7 linked regions of the Homo sapiens genome follow. The protein of the gene in region 1 interacts with the protein of each later gene in a pairwise test. Each region holds a gene or a part of one and is shown in the gene's direction. Other genes may lie near its edges.

Region 1 (4,214 bases):
TTTAAATTATTTTTAGCTATGTCTTCTGATATTTAACTCTGTATTTCTAAACAATATGATTGTACTATGATTTTTTTTTCTATTTTAAACATTATCTGTTAACTTCCTGCTACAGAAAGTGACTATCTCCCTTAAATTATTTTCCCTGCTCTCCCTAATCTCACTCCTCACAGAATCCTATGCACTGAAAATCATTGCTTCATATGTTTTGGTTAATTTAATGTTTACTATTTGCATTATTTTGACTACATGAAAAAAATTAGCCACAGCTTATGGAGTATACTATAATTATATTTTCCTTCTTGTAAAACTATTTTTCCTGTGGTTGATAATTGATATCCCTAGTGTTCTCTATAACTATTAATAATTCTTCCATCCAAATTGCTTGACTTTATTATAAAATTCCTCTCAATATGTCATATATAATTTATTATTTCCCTTTTTTTAGAGACATCTCCCAGAGACAACTTTAGGAGTTATGTGAAATGATTGACCACTGGACTTGCTACACAACTTTTATCCTGAAAATTCTATACCTTCCTCACTTGTGCTGAATTCTTGGCTTCCTTTTGCCATGTCTTTCCCACTGTGTTTATTTTTTAATTTGGGGTTAGCTATCTCTCCAGTAGCTTTTGAGAAGAGGTTAAAAAAAAAGTAAGACTTTTCATATAATTTTAAGGCAGACATAATTTCCCATCCAAATTTTGAAGTCGTATTTGCCTGTCGTCTTCCCTGCACTGTTACTTTTGACAAATCTGATACCATTGATTCCCAGCTCCTAATATATCATCTCTTTTTCTCTTTCTCCGATTACATTTAGAACCATTTGCTTACCTCCTATGTTCTGAAAATTCACAACGACATTTCTTACGTGGTCTATTGTTCTTTCTGGTACCATTGCATCCTCATGAGTTCCCTTCAATCGGAAGACTTGAATCATTTGTTCTGGAACACATGCTAAAATTGTTTTCTTTGAAAAATTTCTTCTCTTAATGTTCTCTGAAGGCCGGGCGCGGTGGCTCACGCCTGTGATCCCAACAGTTTGGGAGGCCGAGGCAGGCGGATCACCTGAGGTCAGGAGTTTGAGATCAGCCTCACCAACATGAAGAAAACTGTCTCTAGGAAAAATAAAAAATTATCCTGGCATTGTGGCACATGCCTGTAATCCCAGCTACTCGGGAGGCTGAGGCAGGAGAATCACTTGAACCCAGGAGGCAGAGGTTGCAGTGAGCTGAGATGGCGCCATTGCACTCCAGCCTGGGCAACAAGAGTGAAACTCTGTCTTAAAAAAAAAAAAAAAAAAAAAATTCTCTGAAATGTTTCTGATAAATGTTACCCTCCAAGGTAACTAGTGAGTTTTCGAGTTGCAAGCAATTCTCTGGAATTTATTGTTACCTCTGCTATCTTTTCCAAAGAGGTAATTCTAGAATAGTAGAAATCTGAAGCCAGAAAGAAAGGAAGATTTCTTCTATCCAGTAGGAAACTGTACCTCAAATACCATTTGACTTGAACGTTCTGGAGGCAGAAAACTTACCACAGATAGATAGATATTTACCACAGATAGATATCTATGATAGAACTTTCTTTGTAACTATTATCCTTGTCTACAGGAGTTTCTCCCACAAAATTGGTAAGCTTCAGTAGCAAAGGTAGACTATACAATTCAGGTTTATATTCCTAATGTTTAGACAAGTTTCTGCCACTCACTGGGTACTAAATAAATGCTTGATGAATAGTGATTATGAACTAACTACTGTCAGTTCTACAGACTGAACACTTGATTTCAGCCAGTGGTACTTCATCTGCACCTTGCTCTCTCAGGCTGTAGAATCAGCAGTAGTAATTATTATCAAGCTCTTCTTTTCTAAGAACAATTGGCAGGCCAAATTATAAGGTGGTCTTCTATTTCAGAGACAAGTGCAAAAATAGAGCATGATCATTTGATATCAAATATAGATCAGTGATTTTCAAACTAGAATGTCTCCAATTGTTAAATACGGTAACATTTAATTTGTTTAATTTATTATTATTTTTTTTTGCTCTATCACCCAGGCAAGAGTGCAGTGGTGCGATCATGGCTCACTGCAGTCTTGACCTCCTGGGCTCAAGCAATCCTCCCACCTCAGCCTCCCAAGTTGCTGGGTCTACAGGTGCACGCCACCACTCCTGGCTAATTTTTGCATTTTTTGTAGAAACATCATCTCTCTATGTTACCCAGGCTGGTCTGAAACTCCTGGCTCAAGTGATCCGCACACCTCAGCCTCCCAAAGTGCTGGGATTACAGGCGTGAGCCATCATGCCCAGTAATTTTGTTCAACTTTAATGTATATATTGTATGCTATAAAACTCTTACGTTAAGGCATGGTAAGTGTTACAAAATTAACCCAAACAATGAATTCAAAATCATGCACGAATATCACAAATTTGGAAATTTCAAAAGTATTTTCCAGAATCATAGCATCATTAGAAGTACATACAGTCTCTTGTGATGTTAATGTCACGGTGCTTGAACACATGAATTTAAGAAGTGAAAAATCCCCATGGAAATTCACTTCATAAAACCAACATCCTGAAATGACCTACAATTTTCCAGATCCTCCATCCAAATCCTCAGCAACTGAGCTCATTCTGAATGAAACTGCATGAATAGGATTACAAAAGAAATGTAATAGAAATCTGAAAAATAAGTAGTCAGTTTTTTGAAATGTAATTTTAAATAAGGCGGCCCAGTGAGGAGGCTCACAGGAGAAGTCAGTCTTTTACAAAGATTTCTCTCTATTAGGGGATAGATTATAATCAATTCAGATGATTTAGGAAATGAGACCTATAAACTCAGATGTGATTGACAATAATCTAATGCTCCTATTTATTAATAATCTGGTCTTTAAATCATAGAGACAGATTTAACTATAAATCTTACAAATCAAAATTTAAATAGAAACTGGATAGGAGAGCTTGCAGACATTCATTTTTTTAAAAAAACTATCAGACCACATGACATGGAATGAATGAAGATGCCAAATGTAATAATGATCGTTATGAAAATTGAGAAATTGCATATCTTAAAAATAAAAGTGTACACTTACAGAAATGATTTGGAAATGTTGAAAGCACCTAGATTAGAAATGAAAGCAAGAAGAGTTAATGCTTTATTGGATTTATCTTATTTATAGTCTCTCTTTCCAGTTAGATTGTCTCAGAACTTGTTGAACTATCTTCCTTTGATTTGACAGAAATACTTACCTACTTGTCAAGGTTGAGTGACAGAAATTAATGAATATTATTGTCAAGTCTTAAAGGCAAAATTTTTGTGTAATTCTTTTTGCCTAAAAAGTTAATAAAACTATATTTCTTCTTAGTAAAAGAAATGAAACCAGAATTCAGGCTCAACTTAAAATATAAATGTGGCTTAGGAGTGACATCGTAATACCACTTGGTATTTCTTAAGTGAGCCGGCTCTTTCTACACTGGATAAAAATAAAGAGAGAAAAGTATCTAAAACCCTATTACCTCCCAAATGTGCCCATGAAAGCAGAAATTTTCTGGCTTGCATCTATGTGTTCTTTCCACTTTCCGTAGCCTCCCACGTTATAATGACTTATGCATGGAATTCAGAGATTTTATATTTTCTTTTGAGTGCAGAGTGAACGTCAACATGGAAAATGTGAAGGCTGACCACTTTTCAAGATGGCCACAGACCTCTGAGGGAACCAAATAGTATCCAGAAAGATACTTGGTCAGGCTGGGATACTAAAATTCTAGCACATGTCAATTTCGCCAGTTTTTACAGACTGGAAATATTTACCTCTCAGGCATGTGCTTAGTCAGAACAGCTCGAAATTTTTGTTGGGGAGTCAAGGCCCTTTACAATAGAATAGACTAAAGAGATCGAAAATCAGTATAGCAGTTAATCTTGTTTATAGCAGAAATCAGTAACTCAACCCATGTTGTGTGCTGACAGTTCTCGTGTGAAGTAAAAACTAAAAGTGTCTGCTCTGTGAATGGGATTTTTCTTTTACAGTCCAATAATATAGTTTCATTGTGGGGCAAAATTTGGGTTAGTCATTTTTATAACGTTGAGTTGACACTGGTATTATTTCTTTCCTTTAACTAAGGGTTTGAAGAATTCAAGGCAAAAATTTGGGTACCTGGTATGTGTTTGTATTCTAAGCTTGTCTTATGCATGATTTTCTTGTTTACTTAAATTTTATGGC
Region 2 (4,214 bases), on another chromosome or scaffold:
GACTGGAGGCCAGTCTGTAGTTCATGCAAGGGCTGCTTTATTTTAGGATTACCTGTGTTCCTAGGGTGGAGCTCTGACGATCCCAGCCAAAAGTACCAGAGTCCTTATACTTAGCAGGTCTTGGCATTGAAATTTTAATCCAAGCTTTGTGAGTTTATATTCTGGTATGCAAATACTCCCAAAGCAAATGTGGTCCTGAGTTCAGGACTCACCTCTCTAGATTTCCATCTTTGCCCAATTCTTGTCCTATAGTTACTTACTATCTTGTTTGCTTTATGGTACTTTTCAAGTTTTTTTTTTTTTTCCTATTGGTTTGTTTTGTGATTTGATTTTTGTTCAACTTTTGAAGTAGCCATTAGTGGGAAGGTTAGTCTGAATCACCTAGCCTGCTGTTTTCAGAAGCAGAAACACCTGACTTTATGTTCTTCATATATGGTTTTACCATCCTGTTCCCTCTGTTTGATTTTAGAGAGATTCCCTAGTTGCCCTATCCAATGTAGTAGCTCCTAACTACATGTGACTGTTGAGCACTTAAAATGTAGCCAGTTTGAACTGAGATGTGCTGTGAATGTAAAATATATACCAGATTTCTAAGACTTACTACAAATAAAACAATGTAAAAGATTTTAAGTTTTATAATTGCATATTAAAATAGTATTTTAGCTATATTAGGTTAAATAAAATATTATTAAAATTAATTTCCCTTGTTTTTACTTTTTTAATGTAATTTAAAAAATTTTTAAATTACATATGTGGCTTGTGTGTGTGATTTGCATTATGTTTGTGTTGGATGGTGTTTGCTATGTAATAAAGTAGTTAGAACACAAGATCTGTGGTCTGGATTTGATTCTTGCCTATACTATTTACTAGCAGTGTAATCCTGGGCTACTTTTTGAACTTCTTGCTTTAATTTTCTCTTCTATAAAATGAGAATAATAGTAATATCCATTTCAAAGATATATTGTGAGGGGAAGATAAAAGACGTAAAGCTGTTAGCACAATCGATAACTTTAAGTGTTGATTAAAATTTAGCCACTATTTATGTTTTTGTTATCATTGTTGCTGTTATTATAGTATCAGATTTTATACTTCAGTGGGTTTTTTCTTTCTCTCCCTCAAAATTTTCCACATTACTCATAGTAATAGAGTTCTTAGCTGGATACTGTAATTTGACTGGGGACAGACATATGTACAAATTACATAAGTGAGGAAGGTGTCACAAACAAATGCTCATTAAGTTTGGCTGTAGAAAATTTTTAATGCTTCTCCAAGATAATATTACCTAAAATATTTCTGTAGACTGGTAACTATATAACCAAGCTTTATAATTATGGTCCAGAAAGGAGTCACATAGCCAGGAAATGGTGGTGTGTTGGAAACAGTATTGTTCTGGGACTTGAGGCCTGGGCTGTAGTCCAAATTCTGCCACTGTGTTTGTCTAGACTCCAGTTTCCTTATTGTAAAATTGTGAGGTTGTATTAGATGCTCACTTATGCCCCCTTTAAGGTTATATAATTTTAACATATTAATACCTACATTTCACATATTTTGAATCTACAGTTTAATTATCCTTAGGTTTTTCAGCTCATATTAGAATGGTAAGAGACTGAAGATAAGGTTACAGGAAGTATAGAGTCATGGTAAGATAGAGGCACAATTTTTTCACCCAGAAAAATCTTACAAGATGCTTTAGGTTGTAACTAAACTATTTTTTTTTCTAGAATTGACTTTAATTTTACTACAGTAAAATGGAAACTTTAGATTGTATTATATTAAGATACTACATAGATAGACATTATTATTATAGTTTAGTGGAAAGATTGCTGGCCCTATCGGAATATCTGGGTTTTAACCCCAGTTTTGCCACTAGATAACTTAAGTAAATCCTAAACAGGTTTTTTTTTGTTTGCTTTTTCCATATGTAATAATTTGGACTGTAATAATGTAACACCTCACTCAGAGTATGCACTTGAAAAATTAATTCTTACTTAACTGGTCTGTCTACTGTGTAGGATTTGCATTAATATTGTGAAAACACTTTAGGGGAAAATAATTTAAAATATATGAATAGACATATAACTTTTCTTACTTTGATTATTTTTGCAAATTTGTTCTATTTAATCTTAAAGGGATTGTTTCTTTGTTTTCAAAGTATAGACCATTGAGAAAGAGGGAAAGCTCCCCAGTATATTTTATGAAGTTAGCACAACCTTAAACCTGTTAAAGCAAATTTAAACCTAGTAAAGATAGTATAAATACACAAACTGTGTACATGCACACATGTATACACACACACACACACACACACACTCCTATGTGCTAAAGTTTCAAATAAAATACTAGCAAATGAATTCAGCATTGTATTTAAAAATTATATATATTGACTAGAAAGGCTTTATCCCAGGAATATAAAGATGACTCTACACTACAAAATCTGTACATAATTCATTATAGCAACATATTAGAGGTAAATTTATAACTAAGCCAGTAGGTATTTCTCAAAAAGAAGGAAAATCATTTGATAAAAATCTAACAACTTCATTCATAGGGAAGTGCAGAGTAAAGCAACAGTGAGATGACATGCAGGACTGGCAGCATGTGAAGAAATAGGCAATCATACCTTGATGCTAGTGTGAAGTGTTACTGCTTTTTGGGAAAAAAACAACAATAGCTTCTGAAATAAAAATGCACATTATCATTTGAATATTCCTGTTTCTGGGAGTCTTTCCTACACAAAATAATATATTAATATTAGTGTATACTATAATGTTAATATATACTAATATAGTAAATTAGGACTTATATGCAGGGATATTTGTTTCATAGTTTGTAATAACTAAAAATTAGGAACAACATGAATGTTGATCACCGAAGGAGTGACTGAGTAAATTATTCTACACTACACCGTGGAATATAGTGTAACCATTGAGCAGGAGGGATAATATTGTTGAGTATGGAATGGCAAATTATAGATTACTGTGTATAATGTAATCCATTTTTTAATAAAAAGGGAGAAGCCTTATATATGTTAAATGTGTGCATGAGCCGTGAGAAATGTGTGGGAGTATTGAGTTAAGAGGGGGTGGGATAGGTGAAGTGAGAATATCATTTTTATTTCATATGCTTCTGTAGTGTTTGATTTATTGTGAAGAGCATTTATTTTTGTATAACCACATTTAATGAAGGAAAAATGCTAAATAAATTCAAAGTATGAGCATGTGGGTTCCAAAGATGCTGCATTTGGCCAGCCAGAGACATGGAAAATGTAAAAGTATTATGCTACACCTTCTATTGTGGAGATATTTGTTATAATTTCCATCCACAACTATTATAACATTACTTCTGAAAAGAAAGATATCTTATACTAAGAAATGGTGGCATTAATGATTTTTTTCTTTTATAGCAACTCCGATCCAATATCCGAGAAATTGAGAAACTTTGTTTGAAAGTCCGAAAGGATGACCTAGTACTTCTGAAGAGAATGATAGATCCTGTTAAAGAAGAAGCATCAGCAGCAACAGCAGAATTTCTCCAACTCCATTTGGAATCTGTAGAAGAACTTAAGAAGCAATTTAATGATGAAGAAACTTTGCTACAGCCTCCTTTGACCAGATCCATGACTGTTGGTGGTAATGTATTGTGCTAAGTCTTATTCTCAGTCACAGTAGTGCAGTTAATTAAAGATCACCTCCTTGAGTAGATACTGAATTATCTATAGGTCTTCAGAGACCATTCACTATCCCAATATGCTGAATCCTTGGACCCTGATCAGTGTTCCTGGAAATGTGTACCCTGGATATTTTGCAGAATAAAAAATTTAAGGCTATGCTTATGGAGTGGGACTTCAGGGAAAGTACCCGTTTGTCTATTTATTGAAGAGAAATTTAAATATATTTCCTAAGGATAATGTCATTCTTGTCTGCAAAGTACTCTTTACTCCTTTCCAGGTGCAGGGGTGACCTCTTCAGGCATGCTTTTTTTTCTTAAGCATTCTGATTTTCAGAGGGGATGTTAGATCTATCTTTCAGCCAAGTTCTCTGAATAACTGACAACATTAAGTAATCTACAATGGGAGTTAAGCCATCATCTTCTGTGAAGTGATACTCTAAGAAACAGCCCTGTGAAATTTGTCATTACATCTCTTCTAAGGATGTAATTGATAATTGCTGATCACATTATAATAATGTCTTTAATTCTGAAAATATTCTTGGCTT
Region 3 (4,214 bases), on another chromosome or scaffold:
AACTCAGGATCAGAAGTTCCTGCTCCGAGGCTTTCTATGGCACTTGGTCATTCACAGCCTTGGCTGAGCACCTGCCTTGCTTCCCCTTTTGTGAATGAAGGTAGCACCTTGGGTTTCTCTATATTTGGCCCATGTTAGTGGGCAAGGCCCGGGTCTTTTTATAAATGGACCTGGCTCCTTCTGCACTGGGATGGAGTCGGGGAGTCTGGCTGAAGATCACCTTGGGGCTCTGCTCCTGCCTGGTTCCTAACTCCAAACCAATGTTTTCTCTTTCTGGCCCAGCCTGAAAACCTACTCTACACATCTAAGGAGAAAGACGCAGTGCTTAAGCTCACCGATTTTGGCTTTGCTAAGGAGACCACCCAAAATGCCCTGCAGACACCCTGCTATACTCCCTATTATGTGGGTGAGTCCTTCGGACATGAGTTGTAACTCCTCACCCCAACTTATACAGCTGTATTATGGGGTAGCCAGTGGGTTGCAGAAACCAAAGGGTTAAAGCCCAGCAAGGAGGGAGGGGGAGAATTCTGTCTGCATGGAGGCGGGTGACGTGGGGGGCCGGAGGCTGCAAAAATATTCTCCCAAACTTCAGCTTCTGCTTTTGAAAATAGATCCAGGAAAATTCTGGCTGTGGCCTGTGAGCTGAATGACATCACAGCAGCTCTAAATATATATGTGATAAAAGGCTGCCATCAGCTTGGGACGGAGCCCAACCGCGGTTGTTTTTCTCTAGTTTTTGTCTTCCTGGGATTCATATTCAGAAAGTGGGCATGCATTTCCTCCTAACTTGGAGGGACAAAGGGTACCAGTCACCTGCCTTGTGGGAGACGGTCACTAAAGCCAGGGCTTGGAGGTGTGCACATACTCATGCTTCCTGGAAAAGTTCACTGCCCTTCTGCAAGTGGGCAACCCCCGGATCTGAAAATGTTCCTTGCCAAAACTGCCCCCTAACCTGAGAGTGGGGTGATGACAGAGGGCTTTTCTCCCTCAGAAGAGGTCTTCCTGGAGGGCTGCTGAAGGGGTGGGAAGTTCCCTGAGACAGTTGAAATGGCACTCTGTTAACTAGGATGTGTTTTGCACTAAGTATTTTAACTTAGAAATCTTCTAGCCTACCCACCTCATTGCACAGGGAAGACAAAGGCTCCATGGATTGGTAGCCAAGCTGATGATGGAATGCAGAGCCCTGTCCCTGGTTCTTCCTTGCCTGTGACCTAGGCTATGCATTCAGGGAGGCAAGGGACACAGGACAGCTGGCAGGCCAAGACCCTCTCACCTACGGTAGCTTCCCACCAAGCCCCAGACTGGCCTTCTCTTCTCTTCTTTCACCAAGGTTGAGACTGGTAGAGGGGCTCAGGCCCAAGGGAGCTAGGGGTATGTCTGAAAGTGGTTGATTTTTTTCCAGGAGCTTTCTCCTCCCCCAACTTCACACACATGCTGCCTTTCCAAAAGGTGCCAGACGCCAGTCTGCTCTGCCCTACCTCCCAGCCCAGGTACCTGCTCCCCACCTTGCCCAGGCTTTAGGCTCCTGCCTGGGCTCCAAGACCCTTGGGTCTGAGAGCCCTGCTGTCCCTCTGCCCTGGCAGCCCCTGAGGTCCTGGGTCCAGAGAAGTATGACAAGTCATGTGACATGTGGTCCCTGGGTGTCATCATGTACATCCTGTGAGTACCTTCCCCACCCCCTGCCTCCATCTCCTGCCCTTACCCCCACTGTGAGCCCTCAGGACCACTTCTGTCCCCCCACCCCCATGTCCTTGGTGAGGAGCTTGTGTGTGTCACTCCTCATGCAGGCTGCCCTTCCCTTTTGGTCATGGGACACCACTCCTTCAGGTGCCTGAGGGTCTCCCCATGCCAAGGGCTGATGGCATTCCTGGGATGTGCCTGGGAGTCCGGAGGGCTGGTATTATTGCTATGGTGTCTGGTTGTCTGTCTCCCCAGTCAGGGGCTTTTGAGGGGAAATGGGTCCACCCTGGCACTGCTCCCACCCTATGCCAAATGACTTACCCCTTCCCCCAGCCTTTGTGGCTTCCCACCCTTCTACTCCAACACGGGCCAGGCCATCTCCCCGGGGATGAAGAGGAGGATTCGCCTGGGCCAGTACGGCTTCCCCAATCCTGAGTGGTCAGAAGTCTCTGAGGATGGTGAGTGAACCTCTCTGTCCCAGCCTGACTCACCTGGCCCCTGCGGCTTTCATTCTGGGAAACATCACTTTGGTGTCAAACTGACCTGTGTTCAAATCTTGGCTCCCCCTCTTTCCAGCTATGGGACCCTAGGCAAGTCCCCTAACCTTCTTGAGCCTCAGTTTCTACATCTGCCAAACAGGCTCAAAACTTGCCTCCTCAAAACTCCCTCTAACTCCTATTCCTCATTCATATTTTCCCCTTTGAGGACCACAAACAAGGCTGCCCTGTATGAGTTATCTACTGCTGCTTAACCAATTATCCTGAACACTTAGTGTTTCAAAACAAGAAATAGTTGTTAGCTCACTCTTTCTGTGGGTTGGGAATTTGGGAGCACATGCAGCCCCTGCCCCAGCAGAGCTTGTGGTCTGTGGGGAAGGGTGGAGGGGCTGGCTCTGCAATCTCATCTCTCCCCTCTCTTCCCTGGCCCCCCTAGCCAAGCAGCTGATCCGCCTCCTGTTGAAGACAGACCCCACAGAGAGGCTGACCATCACTCAGTTCATGAACCACCCCTGGATCAACGTGAGCCCCTCCTCCTCCCATGGCAGGCAGGGTGTCCAACAGGAGTGGGGCTGCCGGGCAGGAGGGTGGTGGCTCTGCTTTGAGGCCCCAGTGCAGGGCTGGAATGGGCCCATGCACACAGGTAGATACTAGGGCCTCACCTACAACCTGGCTTTGTCACTGCCCTAGTGAGGCTCCTTCCCCACCCTGAGCCTTGGTTTTTCCATCTGAGTCTGGGAGAAGAGGATGGAGTAGGGGGAACCAGTGCTGTCCCAGGTGCCTCCAGTTTCTAATCCACGGGCGTGGGGCTCCTTCCAGCAATCGATGGTAGTGCCACAGACCCCACTCCACACGGCCCGAGTGCTGCAGGAGGACAAAGACCACTGGGACGAAGTCAAGGTGGGTGGGCTCTGCCTCAGTCTCAATACAGGTGCCAGGATTTGGGCAAAAGGGACTTCAGGGGGGTGGCTACCCAGGGTCTGGGGTCTTTGGCCCCTTTCTATACCTGGAGCACAGGGTGTCAGTGACTGTCGCAGTGGTCCAACCATGGCACTCCAAGGATTGGGCCTCACTACGCCATTCAGTGTGGTGCTCCTGGCTCACTTCCTCAATGAAACGGGGCTTTGGTACCAAGCTTGGATGATGACCTCTCTTATAACCAACAACATTTGGGAGGGTGGTCAGCCTGGTTTAGACCCAGCAGAGGCCACGTTTGAACATATGGAGTAGCAGCTCCAGTGGCACAATCTCCAGGCCCCAGTGCGCTGGTTGCCCAGCGAGATGGCATTCTCTGCAGGTCTTGTGGTTCTGTGGTGGAACTGGTTTAGTTCACTATCCCACTTACCCTTGGTGTGGTCCGAGGGAGTAACTCTCCTTTTGTGCCTTAGTGAATAAGCTCAGTGTCTACCACAGAGGACGGTAGTGAGGATCATGTGATGCAAAGGGCTTGGCCCAGTGCTGGGCACACAGTGGGCACAGAGGCAGCACAGGCTGTCACTGACATTAAGGGGCTGCCCAGGCAGGGGGGTGATGGTTCCTAAGGTCAGTACATCCTGACCTCTTAGTGCCCACCATCCTGTCTGTCCCCAGGAGGAGATGACCAGTGCCTTGGCCACTATGCGGGTAGACTACGACCAGGTGAAGATCAAGGACCTGAAGACCTCTAACAACCGGCTCCTCAACAAGAGGAGAAAAAAGCAGGCAGGCAGCTCCTCTGCCTCACAGGGCTGCAACAACCAGTAGCTCATGGGGCCTTGGAGGAGCCTGGCCTCTCAGCCTGCATAACAGACTGAAATGTGCTCAGGCCCTGGCCAGGAGGGCCCAGGGTCATTCTTTTAACAAAAGGATTATTTTGTTGTGTTTTAATTTGTCACTCGGAACTTCAGGATGGAGGACCCTGACCCTAAACCTCCTTCAGATCTCTGGCCCAGGCTCAAGCCCTAGAGATGGGCAGGGCCTAGGGGCTGGGAGCTGCCTGCTGCCATAGCAGCACCTTTAGCTAGGTTGGCCCGAGTGAGGCCTCTGTGCTGTCCTGCC
Region 4 (4,214 bases), on another chromosome or scaffold:
TTTCATCACCCCCAAAAGAAACCTCATAGCTATTAACAGTCATTCCACATTCCTCGCCTCCCCAGTCCCTGGTTACTACTAATCTACTCTCTATGGATTTGCCTATTCTAGATATGCATGCAAATGGGATCATATGAGGTGTGTTCTTTTGTGTCTGGCTTCTTTCCCTTAGCATAATGTTTTCAATGTGCATCCATGTTGTAGTGTGTATCAGAACTTCATTCCTTTTTATGGCCAAATAATATTCCATTGTATGGATAAACCACATTTTGCATATCCATTTCTCTACTGATGGATATTTGAGTTGTTTTTACTTTTTGGCTGTTATGAATAATGCTGCTGTAACATTCATGGACAAGTTTTTTGTGGACACATGTTTTCAGTTCTGTTGTGTATGTATCTAGGAGTGGAATTGCTTGGTCATATGGTAACTCTGTGTTTCACATTTTGAGGAATTACCAAACGGTTTTCCAAAGTGGCTGCACCATTTTACATTTCTACCAGCAATGTTTGAAGATCCTAATTTCTCCAGCATCTTCTCCAACACTTGTTATTGTCTGTCTGTTTGATTTTGGCCATCCTAGTGGGTGTGAAGTTATGTATCAATGTCGTTTTTATTTGTATTTTCCTAATGGCTATTGATATTAAGCATCTTTTAATGAATGTATTGGCTATCTGTATATCTTCTTTGGAGAAATGTCTATTCAGATCCTTTGCTGGGCTTGATTTTGACATCTTGGAGTAATCATTCCCTTAGTAAATCATACTAATCAGTTCCCACAGCAAGCACAGAGATGCTCAAATGCTAAGTTGGCTCTCGTTTGTCATTTGATTTTTCTGCTTACTAAGCAAGAGTCAGTTGTATTTGTTTTCAAACTTATTTATACCAGTGGTAATTATGAGTATAATTTAATAAATATTACTCAAATCGATGAAATATGAATACAAAAAGTTGTTTTTATGAAATGCTTTGAAAAGACTTGATAAAGACAAGAAGCTGAAAGAATTGCCTCTGAACGAATTAAATTATGGTTAAGACAACTGAAACAGAGTGGAGAAACCCTGTAAACTTTTGGAAGGATTTCCCAGAAAACACTGCAAGTATTTTTAAGCCCCTGTTCTACTTAAAGGAAAGGAAAATGGACATTGTAGATCTAATGGATTATGGGTGTGATTTATCTAAGGAAGTGGGGAACTGTGTTTGGCAGACTTACACTCAAAAAAAAGGTCTTGGTGCTACATTGGGAAATGAATGTATAATTATGTATTTAAGACTAAAATGGCTAAAATAGATATCATTTTAAATGGTTTCTGCCTTAACTGACTTTTTTGGTTAATAGATCAATGATCACTCTTGTATATGTTTGAAAAGAGGATTTCCACTGTACAAGGTGCCCTGAGGAAGATACAGATGTGGTGTCATGGGAATGTGTAATTCTGATTTGTAGGAATCAAAACTGGTTTCATGGAGTAAGTGGCACTCAAGCTGGGCTGTATGGGGAGAGTAGAATATCACCTAGAAACAACAGACGCACTTTTGCCTGAGGCCTTTGCTGTTGATGTTCCTTTGGCTTGGAATCTTCTTGTCCCAGTTCCTACAGTTGTTTGCTCTAATGTCACCTTCAGTGGTGCCTTAAATTACAGCCTTCTCCACCTTCCATCCACAATGTCTCTCTCATATCCTAATCTTCCTTCGTGCTTTTTCTTGCTCTAGGACACCTTTTCCTGTGTGACATACTATACGTTTTACTTGTTTTCTGTCTCTGTATGTAGCTCTATGAAGGCAGAGATTTTTATCTGTTTCGTTTACCACTGTATTGACAGTGCCCAGATTGGTGTCTGGTACGAAGTTAGGTTCCCATTACATATTTATTTGTGGAATAGATTAATGGCTGAATGAACATAGAAGCTGAACATAGATGAATGAACATAGAATACCTCTTAGGAAGGGTATTCTAGGCTGAAGGAATAGCTTTAGGAAAGGCACAAAGGTGGAAAAGAGAAGGGAGTCTTTTCGAAATACTAAATTGCGGGGATTAAGGCAGGAGATTATGCCACCACATTAAGGTCTTCAAGGCCCATCTGAAGTTTTGGCATTTGGTTCAAAGACATCAAGAAGCTTTTAAAGGGTTTGAGTGACATTATGGTTTTAGAAAACAAAGTCTGAAATTGGTGAAGATGGAATGGAGAAGGGAAGAGCCTGGCGGTACGATGAAAGATAATGGTAGAAATGGGAAGAATTGAGAGGACTTGTTTAGCCTGCACAGGTTTTTTGTTTATTTATTTATTTATTTTTATTTTTAATTGTTGTTGTTTTTTGAGACGGAGTCTAGCTCTGTCACCGGGCTGGAGTGCAGTGGCATGATCTCAGCTCAGTGCAACCTCCGCCTCCCAGGTTCAAGCGATTCTCCTGCCTTAGCCTCCTGAGTTGCTGGTACTGCAGGCGCATACCACTACGCCCAGCTAATTTTTGTATTTTTAGTAAAGACGGGGTTTCACCGTGTTGGCTAGGATGGTCTCGGTCTCCTTGTGATGTGCCTGCCTTGGCCTCCCAAAGTGCTGGAATTACAGGCGTGAGCCACTGCGCCCAGCCTAGCCTGCACAGTTTTTTAAAAAAGTTACATTGGTTGTTAGCCATTAAAAATCTGGAGGTTTCACTTGGCAATCTATTTTTCTGCCGACTCTTCTTCTTCTTCTTTTCTTTTCTTTCTTTCTTTCTTTTCTTTTTTTTTTGGAGACAGTATCTTGCTCTGTTGCCCAGGCTGGAGTGCAGCGGCTTGATCTTTGCTCACTGCAACCTCCACCTCCCAGGTTCAAGCGATTCTCCTGCCTCAACCTCCAGAGTAGCTGGGATTACAGGTGCACGCCACCACGCCTGGCTAATTTTTGAATTTTTAGTAGAGACGGGTTTTCACCATATTGGCCAGGCTGGTCTTGAACTCCTGACCTCAAGTAATCTGCCCGCCTCGGCCTCCCAAAGTGCTGGGATTACAGGCGTGAGCCACCACTCTGGCCTGCATTCTCTTCTAAACTTGGAGGTACTGTCAGCATTGGGCTTTTATTTCCACATTGCAAAAATCAGTCAGTGCTGTCTAGTGAGGCATGAGCTCTTTACTTTGCCCAGTCCTCAACCAGCCAGCCTCTTTTATTGATCTTTTTCTGCCTAAACTTCTGGATCTTCTGCTAGAGATGGTGGGGTGAGTTGTGATGCTCTTAATTTGAGATGGAGAGCCTGTTTGGAGGAGAGTCAAATTGGTGTACATTCCCTCATTCCTGTTATTCACAATTATATGTTTGGATGGGAGACCTTATTTCTCCAGTGCCTAGGTGTTTTGGTCTGAACTCCTCTCCTGCCTGTACTCCTTGTAACTTCCACTGTATTGTTCTTCTTTTTAACTCTTTCCTTGAATCCACTTCCTCCTTTGTATTTGAAACCTACCCTGCTATCTCTGATTATACCATTGTCCTTGAATCACTCTCTGATGTTTTTATGTCTATTTTTTTTTCTTAATTTTATCCCTTAAACTTTCCCTTTTGTCTCTTTCTAAATTCTTTAGGTGGATATAGATCATTATGTTTCTTTAACTCCATTGTCATTTATGATAAAATTTCTCTCATTGTTGTGAAACACATGAATTTATATATGTTACAGATGGGTTTTTTCATGATTTTGCGTTATGGTCTAAGAATGTGTCATATGGAATCTCTGGGTTTTCATATTAAAACTAGGTGCGTCCAGGCACAGTGGCTCATGCCTGTGATCCCAGCACTTTGGGAGCCCGAGGCGGGTGGATCACCTGAGGTCAGGAGTTGGAGACCAGCCTGGCCAACATGATGAAAACTCGTCTCTATTAAAAATACAAAAATTAGCCGGGCATGGTGGCGCATGCCTGTAATCCCAGCTACTCAGGAGTTTGAGGCAGGAGAATCGCTTGAACCTGGGAGGTGGAGGTTGCAGTGAGCCGAGATCGCACCGTTGCACTCCAGCCTGGGCAACAAGAGAGAAACAACATCTCAAAAAACAAACAAACAAACAAACAAACAAACAAGGTGTGTCATTGTATTCTAGTATGAAAACAAATTTTGTGAAAGATTCTTCTATCCAGAAGAGTTATTTCCTTGACTTCTCAGTCTCCATGTTATATTAACTATTATTTTTACTTAAGTTTACTTTATTTTCATGTAATTTCAAACTTAGAAAAATGTTGTAATAG
Region 5 (4,214 bases), on another chromosome or scaffold:
CAGTATAATTTTCTGCTTTTATCAGTGCATTAATCTGTGGCTTTTCTGCCTCCATTTATGCAAGTCAGAGTTGTAAACACAACTATTTTACTCGCTTGCTTAAGAGTCTCCCTATTTATTATAGGATAAAGGCCAGGCTTCCTAGCATGTTAGACAAAGCTTCCTATGATCTGACTTCTGCATACTTATTCAGTCTTATCTTATGCCCATCCTTAAAATTTGTCCTAATTTTCCTCCTTAGTTAGGAAAAAAACTGAAGATGCTTAATATATCTTTCAAAGCTATGCACCATAAAGTTGGTGTTTTCTGTTTCAGACTTATTATGTTATTTCCCACCTTATACTCTAAATTAAAATAATGAAGAATGACTTGTGGTTCCTCTAAATGCCTTGCTCTTCATTGCCTCTCAGTTTTTGCATGAGTTTCTCCTATGGTGAATACATTAGGAATGTTTTGGCTACATTTCTCAGAAAAGTGGCTGATGGTGGCTTAAACATCAGCATAAGGTATCTTATTCTCTTACATAACAGGTTTGGTGATAGGTGGTTCAAACTTTGGCTTAGAAACTCAGTGTAGTTTTCAATCAAGGAGATTAGATTGACATTTCTGCAATTTTCTAGCCTTACTCTGAAGGTCACAAAATGACTCTGGCAGTTTCAGGAATTAAGTCAACAGGCCAGCATCCTAGTCTGAAAAGAATGATCATAAACATAGGCTTTCTCTTCATGATTCTGTGTCAGTTTGCACGGGGGGCAAAAAAAGTCCTTAGGTAGAATATGTTGGCCTTGGAAGAGAGGCTGAGAAAGGGAAATAGATTAGGATCCATCAGAATTTATCCCTTGGGGCTGGATATATTGCTATGCCACACAAAATCAAGGTCATATTAGCTTTGAAATTGTGGAGAATGGCTCCTGTGTAGGCAACTAACAGAGTCTGCTATACTCAGCATAGAATACCATTCCTTCTTGTTGACTTTCTTGTAATTTTTATTTCTTGAGACAGGGTCTCACTCTATTGCCCAGGCTGGGGTACAATAGCACAATCATAGCTCACTAAAGCCTTGAACTCCTGGGCTCAAGTGATCCTTCCACCTCAACCTGAGTAGCTGGGCCTACAGGCACACACCGCCATATTCAACTAATTTTTTAGTTTTGTAGAGATAGGGTCTCACTATGTTAACCAGGCTTGGCTTTCATTTTTTAATACGAAGACTCATTTGTTTTGTAGCCCATTTCCTCTGAGAGCCTTTCTTTGATCCTGCCTTTATTCCCTGCTAATCTGGGTTGGCAGTCTAGCCTACATACATTCTCATATCATAGAATTTATGATGCTCCAATCATCTGGTGTGTTTTTTTTTTTCCTCCTGTGTCTTCATCTGGCAGTGAGTTCCTTAATGACAAGAGATTGTTCCTTTTCTCTCTGTGACTCCCAGTGCTTGCCGTAGGATAGATAATTTAAGGATGCTTATTTGATGACTGACAATGAGGGAGGAAGCTGAGCCAAGCCTCCTTTATGACATTTTTCTCCACAATGAGAAAACTTTTGGAAAAAACAAAGCAAATCTAGAATCCTCTGTTCAACTCTATCCTACTGATCTCACTTTCTTTCTCAGTCTCTTCCTACAAGGTGCCCTTTCCTCTGAAGGGAGGAAAGTGTACCAATCATCTATACCCTGACCCACATTATTCACAATAGTCATGTGCCATTTCTTACTTTCCCTGCGACATTTGCATTTCTTTAGGGCATTTTAAACTCAGAACCTAACACAATACTGAATCCGTAATATATAGTCGGTAAAGCTTGACATATTTTTGGAGTATTTCTTTTGAATACATATTATATATTCCAGAACTCTATAGCTAGGGATGTGGGTAGGATTAATACTTGCTTTGTTCTCATTAGCCAGTGAAGTTCTTTGGTTGTTTGAGATTGTGGAGTTTTCCTAAATGAAGGCTAGAATAATTTCTCATTTCTATTATTTTTTTCAGGTCTTTGGCTCAGGCGTTGGGGTAGTCTCTGTATGTCAAGGAGTACAGATTGGACTATCTATGGCTATTTACCTAAAGCAAGTCACAGCCACGGTACTTATTAATGGGACCAACTTTCCTTTTGGCATTCCACAGGTATATCATGGTCAGATCCATCAGCCCCTTCCCCATTCTGCACAATTAATATCCACCAATGCCTTGGGGTTACTAGAGCTCTATCGCACTTTTGAGACAACTCAAGTTGGGGCCAGTCAATATTTGTTTCCTATTGAAGAGGCCCAGGGGCAATTCCTCTTCATTGTAGGAGAAGGTGATAAGACTATCAACAGCAAAGCACACGCTGAACAAGCCATAGGACAGCTGAAGAGACATGGGAAGAACAACTGGACCCTGCTATCTTACCCTGGGGCAGGCCACCTGATAGAACCTCCCTATTCTCCTCTGTGCTGTGCCTCAACGACCCACGATTTGAGGTTACACTGGGGAGGAGAGGTGATCCCACACGCAGCTGCACAGGAACATGCTTGGAAGGAGATCCAGAGATTTCTCAGGAAGCACCTCATTCCAGATGTGACCAGTCAACTCTAAGAAGACTAGATATTCCTAGAAAATAAAGAAGCAAATCTCTTTACCGGGACCTTCTCTCAATTTTCATGGCGGAATGTCTCCCCCAGCTGCCACACACACATTTTGTATTAATTTTAATGATTAAAAAGAGCATAGGGTAAAAACCTGATATTTCACTTATACTGCATAACAAGCTAACCAAACTGGACATGGTGAATAAATCATAAAACAAATCATTTTACTTATTATTTACATGACTTTTCTTTCCATCAGGTCTTCTAAATAGGACTGAGGTATAGTACACTGGCAAAAATAAGAAAAGGCAAACAAGAATAGCACCAAAGTAACAGATATAAAACCAAATACCATGTCAGAAAACACTATATAGTAAGAATTTATCAGATTAGAGCAGCAGGAGAAAATTAATACTAAATTATAATCATTTTAGTGATATTTTTCAACTTCACCACAGTAACTTTGCAACATCATTTTTCATTTGTGGGGTAGTAAAATTCATGTCAAAAAGGAAAGAAGGAATGGAGGAGGTCAGTTAGTTCATTGCAATAAATTACCTCTTCAGTTCTTAAAAACATGCCCATTGGCACATAACTGAGACATAATAACTAAGACTGGAAGAGCCTTGGTTTAAGTTATGAAGCAAATTAAAATGGAAAATACAAGAAAATAGAACCAATTAGGTTGAAAATGCCCCTTACTGAAAATCTGTATTAAAAATAAAATTAATAAAAGTAAAAAATAAAAATAGAAACACAACTCTACTAGTACAGGCTAGCCTGGGGAGTTTGATAAACTGAGTGATTGGGTCAACTATCACTGTACTTCCATAATGAATTTCTTCAGTCATGTTAGAGTAGCACATGAATGTGAGCTCTATAAGGACAGGTACTATATTTCCGTAAGACCCAATAGTTACTGTACATCCCATAAATAAAAAATACTTTAGTTTGCTAACCAACTGAATATATGAGGACTGCATGTAATTCAACCACATGGTTGTTTGCTGTACAGTCCTTTGCAAATATTAAAAAATTTTTTTTGCTATAAGGCTTTGATCATATAGTCCTCATAGCAACATAACTACCATCTAGCATGTACCACATTTTGCAAGACTTTAAGTTCAACATTCCAAACTGCCAATTTGTATTATGTCCAAATGCAGTATCCTTGAGGAATATAGTGGGTCAGTTAAATATCTAGAGACATACAAACATCTGCTAATTCATCTCATTGAGATGGATCATTCTGATCTCCATCATCCACCCACTTTTCATCAGCTTCTCCTACTTCATTCTCCTCATAGTCTTTATCATGAGGGATTCTGTATCCTGTCTCTCATCTACACTTGCTGGCCTTCCTGGTTGTGATTTATTGGAACAGTCTACACAAAAACCATAGGGTCAAGATCCATGTCTTACTCCAACACTGGCTGCTAACATGATCTTACATACCATACATTTGCATTTTTATCCTTCTTGTGCACCAAGAAATGTTTTCTTACATGTTTTCTCCAAGTGTAAAAAGTCACAGCTAAATGATCTCACTCCTGTATGAATAAGCAAGTGCTTTTTTAGTGTTTGTTTGCATTTGGCTGCATAGCTACAATGATGGCATTTTAACTTATTCATGATTAGAGATGAT
Region 6 (4,214 bases), on another chromosome or scaffold:
AGGATTTCATACGGACCTGATTTGTTTTGGTGTTTAGGATCTGGCACATCAAAGGAGAAATGGGTTGTTCTCTCCAGACCATGAAAATGGACATTTATACTAAATACAGAATATAAACTCAAGAGCATGACAGAAGACTATGTTTTATCAAATAACTTAACACTTTAAAAAGCAGCAGCATTACATTCTGGCAGTTGCTCTCTAGTGGCAGATAGCACAGATCTGTCTGTGTCCTATCTGCAGCAGTCTCTGTGCTGTCTGCAATCTTGGCCAAGTCAAGATCCTTCAGTGGTCATGTTTGAGCAAGTGGATGCCCAAGGACTTTGACAGTTAGTTTATAACAAATTTTTTTTTGTTTTGGAACATGGCATAACATCTTTTCTAATAAGAGAGTATTTCAGGTTCTGGAAATATCATGGTTACTGTATATGCTGTGTTTAATCATTTTCTTTCTCTTTTTTTTTTTTTTTTTTTGAGACAGTGTCTCACTCTGTTGCCCAGGCTGGAGTGCAGTGGCATGATCACAACTCATTGCAAGCTTAATCTCCCAGGCTCAAGCGATCCTCCTGCCTCAGCCTCCTGGGTGTCTGGGACTACAGGTGCGCACCACCATGCTCAGCTAATTTTTTGTATTTTCTTTAGAGATGACATTTTGCCGTGTTGCTCAGGCTGATCTTGAACCCTTGGGCTCCAGTGATCCACCTGCCTTGACCTTCAAAGTGCGGGGATTACAAGTGTGAGCCACTGCATCTGGCCTAGTCATTTTCTTATGATGGTTTTAGAAATTCCTATTTTTACACCACATGGCAAATTGTAATGTTATGTAGTATTTGCACCGTGTAACCAGCTCATGGCAAGCACTTTAAACATACCCTTAGGTTCCTTCTGTATTGGTGTAGTTCTGTATTTGTTCTCTAGGTTTACACTTTTTTCTTCAGCATATATACCTTAGCCTTTATAAGAAATGGAATCTTAAAGGAAAATAAACTGTTGAAACTTACCTTTAAAACTTCCTAATTCATTTCAATATGACCTACAAATTAAGTGTCAGTTGCCTGTTTAAATTTAAAAGATGATTGAGCTCCTGAAGATCTAAAGATATTTAAGCTATACCAAATGCATTTTCTTACCTTAATCCCAGGTGCTTTTCAATTTCCAGGAATTTGTTGAAATATTTTGTCTTGGCAAGGATGAACTGAATACATGTTCAGTTTACCACATAGAATCTGGTGCTGGGAGTATATTTTAAACCTTGATGAGGTGGATTCAAAACCATTTAGAGAGAAAGGGGCACCCATTTGCAGTGTGTAAAGTCTGGATCTTCCTCTGAATGGAGAAATGTGCGTTCTATATTTATTCCCACAAAGAACTAGAATATAAATATTGAGATCTGAATGCCTTTTATTTATTTATTTTTATTGATTGATTTATTTACTGGCCTTGGCAATCCTCTGAGTTTATACTTGAGCTTATTTTGCCTCTAGATACAGTGCTCCCCGCCGAGTTTATCTGCACAGCTGCAGCGCCGGGAACATGATCACCAAATAAATCCTAGGGTGGGGGAGCTTGTCTTGCTTTCTGGCTGAAGGAAGTGTAGTTGCCTAAGACAGGAACAGAGGGACCTCTTGCCCTTCCTACAGTTTTTCCTGTTATAGGAAGTATAATGTCCTACAGAGAAGGACAGAAAGATGGTTGGTGCAGTGTAGGAAGTGGGAGTTGTAAGGTCAGACAGAGGCCAGCAATTGGGGGAGGGATAAGGAAGCCTGCTTATACTTGGAGTTGCCAAGAAAAGGCCTGCTAATCACCCATATACAAGTTTTCAATAATGAGAATTTCCTCAATATACTTAACAGCAAGAGTCCTACACAGGAAGCCCTGCAGTAAGTGGCCAGAGAATTTGCCAGATGCAGCCATTTTTAGCATCACTGAACTCTACAGTGGATTTTAAATAGTACTGGTTGGGAGGAGACCAGAGTTAGATTAAGCCTTTTCTCAAAGTTTGGTCTCTGGACCAGCATATTAATATTGGAACTTGTTAGAAATGCAGATTCTTAGAGCCCAGTAGTCTGTGTTTGAACCACTGGCCCAGCCAATTCAACCTAATTGTAGTGGCAAAGTCAAAATATTGGGAAAGAATGAGTGAAAACTTCATTATATGTTAGAACATCTTCTGATGTTTATATAGGGATGGCAGGGAATGCTGTTTCAAGTTGAAGGACGGAAAAAACAGCTTCAGTTATAGATACCAGTAACATGCAACATTGTTCCTGTAGGTGGAGAATACCCCCATTTGTGGCTACAATTCACCCTGGTCTGGAATCTAAATTCTGCCAGATTATAATACAAGAGAGCTTTTCACTTTGCCTCTTTTTTCGTTTTAAATATTTATTCCTTGATTGTATTAATATTTATATATGCATTGACCAGTGAAATTTTGTTTTCATGGCTTTGTGATGGCAAGAGTTGGTTTAAGTAGCTCATTGGTTCAGAAACACTAGATACATAAAAATTATCTTGATATCCTGTGTAAAATGTAGATTATTGGCTGCTATCCTTGCATGTCCAAGAATCTGCATTTTTTCTTTTTTGAGACGGAGTCTCGCTCTGTCACCCAGGCTGGAGTGCAGTGGTGCGATCTCGGCTCACTGCAAGCTCTGCCTCCTGGGTTCACGCCATTCTCCTGCCTCAGCCTCGCAAGTAGCTGGGACTACAGGCACTCACCACCACGCCCGGCTAATTTTTTGTATTTTTAGTAGAGACAGGGTTTCACCGTGTTAGCCAGGATGGTCTCGATCTCCCGACCTCGTGATCCACCTGCCTTGGCCTCCCAAAGTGCTGGGATTACAGGTGTGAGCCACCGCGCCCGGCCAAGAATCTGCATTTTTAACAGGCACCACTCACACCAGCCCACCCCCAACCTGCAACGTTGTTTATTGGGCTTGTGGTTCTCAGACTACATTTTGAGAAACACTGTGCTAAATTTCCAAGGAGAGTGATTTTAAAGTAACAGCTTTATTGAGATATAATTCACATGCCACAAAATTCACTCTTTAAAAGAATATAATTTATTGATTTTTAGTATATTTACAGAATTGTGCAACCATCACCACTGTATAATTTTAGGATATTTCCATCATTCCTCAAGGAATCCCTGTACTGATTGGCAGTGACTCCTCATTCTCTCTTTATCCCAGTCCTTGGCAACTACTTTCTGTCCCTGTGGATTTGCCTATTCTGGACATTTCATGTAAATGTAATCATAGAATATGTGGCCCTTCGTATCTTCCTTCTTTCACGTCTCACGGTGTTCTCAAGGTTCGTCCAGGTTGTGGCATGTCGGTACTTCAGTACTTCATTCCTTTTTACAGCTGAATAATATTCCACTGTGTGGATGGACATTTTGTTGATCCATTCATCAGTTGATGGTCATTTGGTTGTTTTGCTGTGCGTATGTTTTTTAAAACAATATTAACTATATCTGGGCCTTTTCAAATCATCACTGGATAATTCTGTAGAGTGTCTTAGAGGGGATTCCTATAGGAAGTGGGGACTGGATTTAGAGTCCCTTCTGTTCATGGATTTGAGGAGTCTGTATCTGTAATTTCTTTGGGCTAGTGAAATACATTCTTCTAAGAGCTAGAGCAGCTACTTTTTCTTCATAGCAGAACATTTGATATTGAAAAAAATCTTTTTACATGACTTGTTTAAGGACTATATTTCAAAATAGTTTCTATTAAAAATAGTATTCTTTAGCATTTCTGGGGAGGAGGAACTCTTACTGAAAAAGCTGGTATTTTTGTCTGTATTTTCTTTTCTTTTCCAATCTCTTCATTTTTACTCTACCGAACCCTATAACCCAACTCTATTAATCTAGATCCTCTTTCCAGCACATAAATATTTATGGACAGTAATAAATTATATTAGTTCTAATAGAGTTTAAAATGTTTTGTGAATTTTTATCCCAGCATGACAAAAATCACTGGGTGGTCTGATACCACCTTCATCTTTAAATATTTAACCAATTCTTTTTATTTTTAAAGGCTACATTAATTGAATGATATCCATAAAAGTGTTTAATAGTACTTACCTTGGGCCCACAGTGCGCAAAGCACTTCATGGAATTAAGGTCCTTTTTGCATCTGCTCTCCTCATACCTTATTTCAACTGTGGTACTCAAAATCTGGGCCCACCACTCTGCAGTGGGGACAGTGACT
Region 7 (4,214 bases), on another chromosome or scaffold:
AGAATATTTTGAGAATCTTGTAAGAGAGAAGTTCTAAAACTACTTTTTCAGGCTATTGGACACTAAATAGATGAGAGCAGTTATTTTGCTTGTTCTTTCCCAGAACTTGAACTCTCCCACTGGATTGTACTCAACTGGGCCTTAGGTAGTTTTCTCAGAAAAATTCAGTAGCTGATCCACCTTGAATTTTATCAATTTGTAATGGCTAACAAACTTGGATAGCAAGTACTAGAAGATTTTATGATTATTCAGGGACATATTTTCTAGCACTGAATATGTGCCAGACATTGTCCTAGGTGCTAGAGCTATAGTGATAAACAAATCAGATGAAAGTAGAAATCCATGCCCTAAAGAACTTAATGTTTCAATTGGGAAGGTCAAGTCAGATAGGTTAAAAGGCAAACACAGTAGCACTGTAGACATTACTATATAAGCTTTATGGCAACTAGTGTTTGTGCAGTGCTTTACAGTTAGTAAACAGTGTTCACGTACCTTATCTCACAGTGGCTTTGTGGGTTTGACAAAGTAGCAATCCTCATCTCATAGGTGAGGAAACTAGGGCTCTTTAAGATTAGATAATCTGTCTAATAGCATCCAGCCAGGTGGTCATCTGACTCTAAATCCTTTGAAGTCTTACTTATGCTACAGTGCCTTTCTTTTTCCTACAGATATTGTTAGGCATAATTCATCATCTAGCAAGTCCAGAATCATCTTTCCAGAGTTCCAGCTCATTCATAATAACATGTTTCAGAAATCAGGGTCCTGTATTAGTTACGTTTTTCTTAAATGGAGACGGAATCAAATGTGACTGCATGTAGTTTTTCTGTTCTCATTTGGCCTATTTTCCAAGAGTAAGGTTAGTAGATGGCTATTTGTAGCAGTAACTGGACAGCATCTGTCCAGTGGGACAGCTGGAGACTTGTCTTTAGTATTTGGTAATGCTGACTTATGTGCTGCTTAATCTTTTGAGTCTTGATGGATGTATTAGATTTCTATTGTTGTGTAACAAATTACCACAGAATCATCAGTTTAAACAACACACATGTATTATGTGTTTGAAACATTATTATGTATCTGTGGGTCAGAAGGATGGGCACAGCTTAACTAGGTCATCTGCTTAGGTCTCACTAGACTGCAATTAAATTGTCAGCTGATATGAGTTCTTATCTGGAGGCTTGACCATGGAAGAATCTGCTTAAGCTCACTCAGACTGTTGGCCACATTGATTTCCTTGCCATCGTAGTAGGACTGGGGGCCCCAGATTCTTGCTGGTTGTTGGCTGGAGGCTGCCCTCAGTGTCTAAAGGCTGTTTGCAGTTCCTTGCTATGTGGGCTTCCTAGCACGCCTGCCTACTTCAGCAAGCCTTCAAGGAGAGTCTCTCGAGTGAGTCTTCCAGCCAGCAGCAGTGCTAATGAAAAGCATAGTCACTGGAGGGACATCATACCTCTTTTGCCATATTCTGTTGGTTAGAAGCCAGTCACACTCAAGGGGAAGGATTATATAAGGGCATGAACTTCAGGAGGTGCGGGTCACAGGGCCACTTTTGGATCTGTTTGCCACAGTAAGAACCTTCATTGGTCCCACAGAGATATACTGAGGACTACTATATCCCTGGAACAGAAGCACCAGTGATACAAAGATGAGTTGGTCCCAGCCTGTGTTAAGGGGCCTGCCTGCGTCTAGGGATGAAGACTCTAAGCAGGTCACTACCCTACCGTGGGGAAAGCGCTCTAGCAGAGGTTTGTGCACAGGCTTCTCTATGGGGACTGTAGGAAAGAATGCTTTTGTCTGGAGGAGCCAGAAAGGCTTTGTAAAAGGTGTGCTTTTGAGGGCCTCAAAGAGCAAGTAGGAGTTTGATAGGTAGAGAAGAGGATGGGCTACCAGGTAGCAAGAAGGGTGTGTGTTGGTACTAGGTCTGTGTGAGAGAATTATGAGTAAGTGCAGTGAGGCGTAAGCAGACAGTGTTAGAGGATTCTGGGGCGTGACTGTATTCTCCAAGTGTTTGCACTGTTCTTCATTTTTCACGTTTTTATGTCATAGGTGGAGCTATATACCTTTCTGGAATTGACATGATACATGGCACACCCGTACTAGACATCAAGCCCTACATAGCTGAGTATGACTCACCGCAAAATGTGATGGAGCCTTTAGCAGACTTTAATTTACAGAATAACCAACATACACCAAACACTGTGTCCCAGTCTGACAGCAAGACTGACAGCTGTGACCAGCGACAGCTCTCAGGGTGTGATGAGCCACAACCCCACCATAGCACTAAGAGGAAACCTAAATGTCCTGAAGACAGAACTTCAGAAGAAAACTACCTGACACACAGTGACACAGCCAGAATTCAGCAAGCATTTCCTATGCACAGGGAGATAGCAGTGGATTTTGGTTTGGAATCAAGACGTGATCAGAGTTCCAGCGTGGCAGAAGAACAAATTGGCCCATATTGCCCAGAGAAGAGCTTTTCAGAGAAAGGTACAGACAAGAAGCTAGAAAGAGTGGAAGGAGCAGCAGTCTTGCAAGGAAGCAGGGCAGAGACACAGCCCATGGCCCCTCACTGCCCTGCTGGAAGGGCTGATGGAGCTCCCCGCAGCGTGGTTCCTGCCTGGGTGACAGAGGCTCCTGTGGCCACTTTAGAAGTGCGGTTTACTCCTCATGCCGAGATGGACCTTGGGCAGCTCAGTTCACAAGGTATCTTCAGTTTCTTCATTCTGAATGAGAGATGAACTTTTACTTTGAGATTTAGCCAAGTTTGGTATTTGTGAAGGCAGGTATGTGGAGTGTTTGTCAGTATGACTGGTTTTTAGGAAACAGGTATAAAATAATATTTTTGCAGTACCATCATGTGATGACTTTTGTTGGACAACTGTGTGGTCAGCACAGTTAGTTCCAGGCTGTCAGTAAAGCATTGGCAGAGAGTGGCTGCTGCCTCACAAGGTGGCCTATGACTTACAGCCCCTTGTCTACTTGCTACAGTAGTTCTTAGAGTCTTCAAATATCATTCAGAAGCTAAATTGTGCTTGTTCTATACTTATGTACATAAAGTTTTCTTATTTGTTTTACTGTCTGACTTGAGAAATGTTGCATTGTATTCTGACTGTCAGGTAGTCGATAGCTCAGCCTCTGGCACAGAGGACTCTAGGAGCCCAGAGTCACAGGGGAAGAGTCTCTTAGCACAGAACTTGCCCCAACAAAGTCCCACTGCTAGAGGCATACACTTTGCTGCAGAAGAGAGGCCACAGGGCTCTTACATGGAGCCTGCTTACTTTAACACATGGTTCTTAACAAATGTTATCTGGTTTCCCCAGCCCACAGCAGATCCCAAGCAGTAGCCTAGGATGAAGGAAGGGGCTGTTAAGATGTGGATACAGCGATACCAGTAAGAAGTAACTAATTTCAGGCTGGGCACGGTGGCTCACTCCTGTAATCCCAGCACTTTGGGAGGCTGAGGTGGGTGGATCACTTGAGGTCCGGAGTTCAAGACCAGCCTGGCCAACATGATGAAACCCTATCTCTATTAAAAATCCAAAAAGCCAGTTTTGGTGGCAGGTGCCTGTAATTTCAGCTACTCAGGAGGCTGAGGCAGGAGAATTGCTTGAACCTAGGAGGCAGAGGTTACAGTGAGCCGAGATGTTGCCACTGTACTCCAGCCTGGGTGACAGAGTGAGACTCCATCAAAAAGAAGAAGCTGGTTGCCAAGGAGATGTCAGATTGCAAAAAGCTGTTCTTTGTGTTACAACTCAGTAAGGAGCCAGCATAACCATATAAAGAGGGAAGTTCATTTATTCATTCTACAGTTGTTTACTGAGCTTCTGCTAGGTACCAGACATTGGTCTAGGTTCTTGGAATACATCAGTGAACAAAACAGATATAAAAAACCCCTGCTGTCATGGAGCTTGCATTCTAATGGGGAGGAGAGAGACAAATTAAAAGTATAATAAGCAATCAAGTTATTAGACCAAACATATTCAACATTATATAATATTAGAAGGTGATAAGAGTTACTGAAAAATTTAAGAATACAGCAGGCTTGGAGTGTTGTTACTATTTTATTTTATTTTTGAGACAGGGTCTCACTCTGTCACCCAGACTGGAGTGCAGTGGCAAGAACATGGCTTACTGCAGCCTCAGCCTTCCGGGCTCAAGCAGTCCTCCCACCTCAGCCTTCTGTGTAGCTGGGACTACAGGTGTGCACCACAACACCTGGC

What was found.
Region 2: the proteins of DLC1 (region 1) and STX17 interact in a two-hybrid assay, tested with the Homo sapiens proteins (one large-scale study listed by BioGRID and IntAct).
Region 3: the proteins of DLC1 (region 1) and MAPKAPK3 interact in a two-hybrid assay, tested with the Homo sapiens proteins (one large-scale study listed by IntAct).
Region 4: the proteins of DLC1 (region 1) and TMEFF1 interact in a two-hybrid assay, tested with the Homo sapiens proteins (one large-scale study listed by BioGRID).
Region 5: the proteins of DLC1 (region 1) and BAAT interact in a two-hybrid assay, tested with the Homo sapiens proteins (one large-scale study listed by BioGRID and IntAct).
Region 6: the proteins of DLC1 (region 1) and AOPEP interact in a two-hybrid assay, tested with the Homo sapiens proteins (one large-scale study listed by BioGRID and IntAct).
Region 7: the proteins of DLC1 (region 1) and TRMO interact in a two-hybrid assay, tested with the Homo sapiens proteins (one large-scale study listed by BioGRID and IntAct).

Annotation. Positions count from the first base shown.
Region 1 is NC_000008.11:13,501,215-13,505,428, reverse strand, and holds part of DLC1 (rho GTPase-activating protein 7), read left to right. Parts: intron 1-4,214. UniProt on the Homo sapiens protein: Functions as a GTPase-activating protein for the small GTPases RHOA, RHOB, RHOC and CDC42, terminating their downstream signaling.
Region 2 is NC_000009.12:99,947,657-99,951,870, forward strand, and holds part of STX17 (syntaxin-17), read left to right. Parts: intron 1-3,403; coding exon 3,404-3,629; intron 3,630-4,214. UniProt on the Homo sapiens protein: SNAREs, soluble N-ethylmaleimide-sensitive factor-attachment protein receptors, are essential proteins for fusion of cellular membranes.
Region 3 is NC_000003.12:50,644,127-50,648,340, forward strand, and holds part of MAPKAPK3 (MAP kinase-activated protein kinase 3), read left to right. Parts: intron 1-282; coding exon 283-406; intron 407-1,583; coding exon 1,584-1,659; intron 1,660-2,013; coding exon 2,014-2,138; intron 2,139-2,613; coding exon 2,614-2,699; intron 2,700-2,996; coding exon 2,997-3,077; intron 3,078-3,767; coding exon 3,768-3,920; 3' UTR 3,921-4,214. UniProt on the Homo sapiens protein: Stress-activated serine/threonine-protein kinase involved in cytokines production, endocytosis, cell migration, chromatin remodeling and transcriptional regulation.
Region 4 is NC_000009.12:100,479,482-100,483,695, forward strand, and holds part of TMEFF1 (tomoregulin-1 precursor), read left to right. Parts: intron 1-4,214.
Region 5 is NC_000009.12:101,360,790-101,365,003, reverse strand, and holds part of BAAT (bile acid-CoA:amino acid N-acyltransferase), read left to right. Parts: intron 1-1,988; coding exon 1,989-2,576; 3' UTR 2,577-4,214. UniProt on the Homo sapiens protein: Catalyzes the amidation of bile acids (BAs) with the amino acids taurine and glycine. More than 95% of the BAs are N-acyl amidates with glycine and taurine.
Region 6 is NC_000009.12:94,732,651-94,736,864, forward strand, and holds part of AOPEP (aminopeptidase O), read left to right. Parts: intron 1-4,214. UniProt on the Homo sapiens protein: Aminopeptidase which catalyzes the hydrolysis of amino acid residues from the N-terminus of peptide or protein substrates.
Region 7 is NC_000009.12:97,908,443-97,912,656, reverse strand, and holds part of TRMO (tRNA (adenine(37)-N6)-methyltransferase), read left to right. Parts: exon of another isoform or gene 1-1,639; coding exon of another isoform or gene 1,640-1,739; intron 1,740-2,040; coding exon 2,041-2,697; intron 2,698-4,214. UniProt on the Homo sapiens protein: S-adenosyl-L-methionine-dependent methyltransferase responsible for the addition of the methyl group in the formation of N6-methyl-N6-threonylcarbamoyladenosine at position 37 (m(6)t(6)A37) of the tRNA anticodon loop of tRNA(Ser)(GCU).